Regions from separate parts of the Homo sapiens genome. Here region 2 is linked to region 1. Evidence: fine-mapped expression QTL. Tissue or cell type: whole blood. Region 1 holds a variant in brackets; the other region holds the start of a gene. All regions are shown on one strand. Distances are from middle to middle. Region 1 overlaps LSP1 (lymphocyte specific protein 1). Region 2 holds the start of LSP1 (lymphocyte specific protein 1).

The links. PIP is the estimated chance that this variant, and not a neighbour inherited with it, causes the effect.
Region 2: LSP1 starts here. The variant in region 1 is fine-mapped to the expression of LSP1 in whole blood (INTERVAL, PIP 0.93).

What each region holds. Positions count from the first base shown.
Region 1 is chr11:1,874,272-1,877,162 of GRCh38, reverse strand. The region is part of intron 1 of LSP1 (lymphocyte specific protein 1); the gene reads right to left. Among named protein-coding and RNA genes, the nearest start is that of MIR7847, 4.3 kb to the left of the region's middle. RefSeq lists enhancers at 1-719, 720-1,616. The variant C/T (reference allele first, on the strand shown) is at 1,458.
Region 2 is chr11:1,851,594-1,854,406 of GRCh38, reverse strand. LSP1 (lymphocyte specific protein 1) reads right to left here and starts at 1,323. Exons shown (of 11, transcript NM_002339.3): 1 at 1,210-1,323. The coding sequence starts at 1,262. RefSeq lists enhancers at 1,232-1,551, 2,543-2,592.

The sequences.
Region 1 (2,891 bases):
GAAAGGCGCCCCCCGGCCAGCGGCCCAGGCCCCTTGGCATGCACCACGGAGCTGTCAGGACTCTGGGATGGCCGACCCCGCCCGTGGCCCTGGCTCAGCCCCGTGCAGCTGCGAGGGATTTGGTGTTCCTGCACAAATGCAATTAGGCGATTTCCTGTGTCTGTTCTGGCTCCGAAGCCCAAGGTTCAGCCCAAGGGGCCAGGCGGTGGGGGGGCTCCATCCACCTCCCACCCCAGCACACCCCCGCACCCTCACAGTCCCAGGCTCCACTTCGGGGCCTGGCCCCCAGCCAGGGACACCAGTATGCACAGAACTCTGACGGATGCCTCGTTCGGAGTGGAGCTCCCCAAGCTCAGGTCTGTTCCTGCCGGCCTCATCCACTGCCAAGCACCCCCCGACTCGGGACGCTGGCCCTTCTTCTCCTTCCTCCACAAACCCCCACCCCCACTTCTACCTCCCAGTCCCCGCTGAGGGCCTGACAATGCCCATCCTCGGCCCAGCACTCCCAGCTACCCACCTCCGTCCTCCCCCTGCAGACACTTGCAGAATGGGTGTCCGGCTCGGTCCCCGTCCCGACTCTGCCCCCTGCAGGCAGCTCCTGTGGCTGCCCCACCCGGCTGTCCTGAGCCCAGAGGGCGGCTGGAGAGGGTCCGTCCTCTCTGGGGTCCTGGGGAGTGAGGAGGCTCTGGTGAAGAGCAAGGGCTGCGGGGAGGATGTCGAGGGGAGGGGGAGCTTCTCCTCCAGGCCTGACCACAGGTCCCTTGGACACCACAGGGAGCTGGCAGGAGGCCTGGGGAGCTGGGCTGGGCCTTCCACCAGGGTGGTTCGGGGCTCCCTGCACAGCACTGAGGTCTCTGGTCCCCTCATGAGCCCAGCCTCCCCTGGGGTCCTAGACTTGACCCCTCAAGTCACTGCAGAGCCCAAGAGTGGAGAGACACAGCACCGTGTGCCGGGAAAAGGTGCCCACAGGGGCCCTCCGTGGCTGAGGCTTCCAGAGGGTAGTGGGACAGCAACCCCGCTCCCCGCCAGCCGCCCACCACAGCGTTCATGATACAGCTTCGGAGTGTGTGTCGGGGCCTATCTGGGAAGCCAGGGCAAAGGCGGTGGCAGCTGGCAGCACCCACACCCACAGCTGGGGCACTGCTCACATGAGCCCCCATCAGCAGGCCCCTTGGTTGTGCCACACGCAGGGGTCCTGCCCCAGGGAGGGGGCAGTCCAGGGAGGGGCTCGAGGGTGTGGCACAGGCCAGCTGTCACTCCTCCCTGGAGAGGCAGCTGGGGACGCAGCTGGGAGGGGAGCCAGGAGCAGAGACAGCCCGGGGCCAGCAGGTGGGTGACAGGTGGGGCAGCGGGAGGGGCATGCGCCGTCCGCCTGGGGCTCGGGCGTAGAGACGGGAACCTGCCCCCCAACGCCTGGTGCTGGCCCAGCCTCCCCCCCGGGGCCTCTAGCACCTTCC[C/T]GGTTGTGGCTGCACCCTGCTGGGCATGGCAGGGGAGGGTGGGGGTCAACCCCTTTCCTTGTAGTCCCACGCCAGTGGGCAAGGGAGACGCCGCAGTGAGCAGGACCCTAGCCTCTCTGCCTGGGGAGGCCGAGTGATGAGCCGCCCGGAGCAGGAGGAGGCCTTGAACTTGGGTCTGAAAGATGAGCAGGGATTTGCTGGACTGGGTGCAGGCAAGAGCTAATGCAGGAAGGCAGAGAGCAGGATTGCTCAGAGGGAGTGGCTCTGTGCAGCTGGAGCCGGATGGGTGACCCTCACTCAGGAGGAAGCACTGGGACCCTCTCTGCACGCGCTGGGTCCCCCGCCTCCTGTTAGGATCCCCACACCCAGGTCCTTCTGGGCCTCTGCTGCACAGATCAGGTCTGGAAGGCTCCCTGGAGGAGGCAGCGCCTGGACTTGGACATCGGCCTGCAGAGCTGGCTTCCCTCACAACCCTGGGAAGACAGAACTCCTCAGCGGGTTGATGGGGGGGAGGGCGGAGCCTCCCTCCACGGCACCAGCCCAGTGCTGGGGGCGACACAGACAGCCAGAAGCTGGCAGGGGCCGGAGGCTCTGCCCCCCATGGGCTTTACATGCCGAAGCCCCCATGGCCGAGCTGGGACCCAGGGTCAGCCCAGGGAGGCCGCGAGAAAGGAGACTGTGGGCCCCACCCCATCACACAGGGAGGAGGTGCTGTGCCCGCTGTGGGGGGCAGCTGCCCCTCTCTGGGCCCTTTGGGTGGGAAGAGGCTTGGTGAGGTAGAAAGCCCAGCCCCAGCCGGCAGTGTTGCCTTCTCACAGTGGCAGCCCTTTGTAACCAAGGGGGGCCCTGCCGGGCCTCTCCTTGTTTCCTCACCATGGGGCAGCATTTGGGGACCTCTTGAGGGACCCCCTAGGTGCTTCTACTCAGAGCCCCCAAAGCCAAGGAGCCTCCACTCCTCCGTCTGCAGCCTCCCCTGCCGGTTCTCACTACCCAGGGTTCAGTGGCCTGGGGGCTGCCGGAGGGAGTCGCCTCTGCCAAGGCCCCTCCCGGCGCCTCCCTGGCTCATCCAGCCCACCTCCCTCCCACGCTGGCTCAGGCAAAGTGCTCTGGTCACCAGGAGCCCTTTCTGACCAGCCCCGGCCCCTTCTTGGCCTTCGCCCCACCTGGCCTCCCCTGGAGCCCTGGCCTGGGTGCCGGGCCTGCTGGGTCCAGAGCCCACCCCACCCTGAACAGCCCTGAGTCTCAGCCACCCTCTGTTCTCACCCATTTCACAGCTGGGGAGTGAAGACTGGGCCTGAGGTCTCGCTCCCGGGAAGGGGTGTCGGGAGACCAGATCCTCACCCCGACACTGCCCCCACTGTCCCCAGCCTGCCCCCACTGTCCCCGGCCTGCCCTCACTGTCCCCAACACTGCCCCCCCGTCCCCGGCCTGCCC
Region 2 (2,813 bases), 23 kb after region 1:
CCCTGCACCGCCCCGGGTCGGGTAGACCGGGACCCTCTGCTGTCAGCACCAAGGCAGAGACTGGTAGCAGCCCTGGCTGCAGTTTTGGGGTATGTGAGCGTCACCCTGGGCCTCCTCTCAGGTCCGTCCTGTGTGGCTGCGGGCATCACACTCTTTCTGCAACCTGGGCCCCAGCGCCTTCCCTTCCGCACACCAGGCCACAGCCCCCGCTGACCTGCTCCTAGGCCGGCCTCTATCCCCAGCACCGGATCCCCATCCCCTGACCATTAGCACGTCGCCCCTCTGCCCCTCAAAGCCCTACCTGTCCCTGCACCGCACGCCCTGAGCCCTCCCATCTCTTCTGGGACCTGCACCGGGGGCAACTCGGGTTCCCCTGGCGAGGCTCAGCTGTGATGCCTGGATGCCTGCTGGCCGGCAGCTCCCCTCTGCCAGGGAGCCCAGTTACTAAGCCGCTAGCCCTCTCCACCCACCCCAGCACAGGGCTGGATGCCCATTGGTACCACAGAGTACAGCTGCCCGCTAGGAGGCCTTTGGCAGCGGGGTTTTTCTGCCCAGCTCTGGCAGTCCTACACACAACCTCTGCCATGCCCCCTCATGTCCCCACTCCAACCAACACACGGTGCCTGGCACCCAGCACAGGCACCTGCCAGAATCCTTGGCCTTGTCCTTTACCGCAGGTCAAGGGCAGCTTTGGGTGCCCTGCCCTGAGGCCTGCTGGGCCCCAAGCCTGGCGGCCTCCAGACCCTCAAGGCAGGATAGCCCCTCTCAGATAGTCCTGTGGGCAGGTGGCCAGGCCCGGGCCAGTTCCACCCATCCCAGAACAGCTGCTCCCCAGCCCCCACCTTGCCTCTTCCCAAGCTAACAGGGCCCACAGTCCCCAGCTCCTCCCTGGCAGTCCAGGACACGTCTTGGGGTCTCCTCGCTTCAGGCATCCACCATGGGCTTAGGATCCCACGCGCCTCCCCCAGTGAGTCCAGGGCACAGAGGCAGGCGGAAGAGACCTCCACCCTTGTTGTGAGAGGGGGGTCCCAGCAAGACTTCCTGCCACCTGTCTGTGGGTCCCCAGTTTCCCCATCGGACATCCAAGTTCTCCCATTGGGGGCCCCAGATTCCCCATCAGGCACCTCAGTTCTCCACCCTCCATGCAGCTCAAGGACTATGCACCCGTGGACACGGCACAGGGCGCCGGGCGTCGCCGCAGACCCTTACCCCAGCAACTCTTCCCGCTCCTCGGCACCCGGGTCACTCGAAGCCTCCGCCATCAGCCTGTAGTCTGGGCCCCACAGGGTGCTGGCAGATCCCTGGAGTGGGTGTACGTGCTGTGGCTTTCAGTGCTTTCTGGGGCGGCTTCTGAGCCCCCACCCCCAGCCGAGTTTCACTTCCCCCTTCCGGCTGCAGGTTGAGGTTTGGAACCTGTCTCGGCTTGGGTCAGGGTGTTGTTTTTTAATCTGTTGCTACAAGAGGAGAGGAAGAAAAAAAAAAAAACCCAAACCACCCCTCAGGAAGCGTTAAGCAAGTTACAGGGGCCTGGGGTGACAGAGACGGGGTGCGAGGGCCAAGATGGCCGCAGGCAGCTCTTCATGGCTCGGGGAGGGGGACCCATGTTACCCCTGGTCCCCGCTAGTAGCTCTGGCCATCAGGTCCACCTGTGAGTGGCCAGTTCTCCTGCAGCATCAGGGACAAACACGTCTGTGATCCCATAAGCACCACGTGAGCGTTTTAGCTTCTTTGGGTGAAATCTACCCAGAGGCCGGCTCTCCTACAGGTGCTCATGGAACTTGGTGGAGTCTTTTCTCGAAGCCTGGGGTCATAGCCTTGAGCACATCAAACAGCTGTGGGTCCCAGGTGGCTTTGGGGGCTGTGCCCGGGATGCCCCTGCGTTCTACCCGTCGGGTGCCTTGTTCTGTCTTGGACTGCCTTGCTGATGCCGAGCTGTCGGGCATCCGCCTCGTCCCCCCGCTGCCCCTTGCTCTCCGTGCTCTGGTCGCTGGAGTTGACCACCGAGTGGTTCGTGTCCCCAGGCTCTAAAGGCAGTGCCTCAGGGACCCTCCCAAGAGGCATAGGCCAGCCCGAGGGGAGGGATGGAGGCTGTTTCCAGCCCTCACTGTCCCCAGCTTCTGGGAGTGACCACGCAGTGGCTCCAGGGTCAGGAGGAGGGATGCATGACTGCAGGAGCCAGACCCCAAAAGCTGAGGCAGGGGAGGACTTAAGCTGGGCCAGAGTAGGGCAGCCACAGAGGTGGCGAAGGCTTCCCTGCTGGAAACCTCAGCGCAGGAGAATGGGAGAAGGGAGCCCTGGCCAGCGGCTGGGCCTGAGAAATCCAACCAGCAAGGACTTACAGGGGGTCCCAAGGCAAAGAGGGGCTGGAGAGAGGCCAGGGGTTGGGAGGGCCCTGGGCCCAGAGTGTTGACCCATCAGGGTGGGGCCGAACCGGAGGCCGCCTCCTTGGGACTCAGCGAGCCCCCCACCCACCAAACACACCACAAAGACCAGCAGAGGCTTTCAGAGCCCCACGAGTGGAGGCACCAGAGGGATCCGTGGCCCAGACGATGGGCAGGGCTAAAACCAGATCAGGCCCAGCGCCATGGAGATGAACAGGCCATGCCTGTGTCTTCCCCACGCCTCCTCCCTGGGGGTCCCTAAGGGCCCCCAAGTCCCCCTTGCAGAGTGGCACATGGCAGAGCCCTGCGGTTCTCACCATGCGGCCTCCATCCTGAGGCCATCCTGAAACGGCTCCCCTCATGGTGGTAGGGTCTCGCCTCCAGGTTGCAGCCATTCCGCTCACCCACCCGTCCAGGCACTGCATCGGCAGG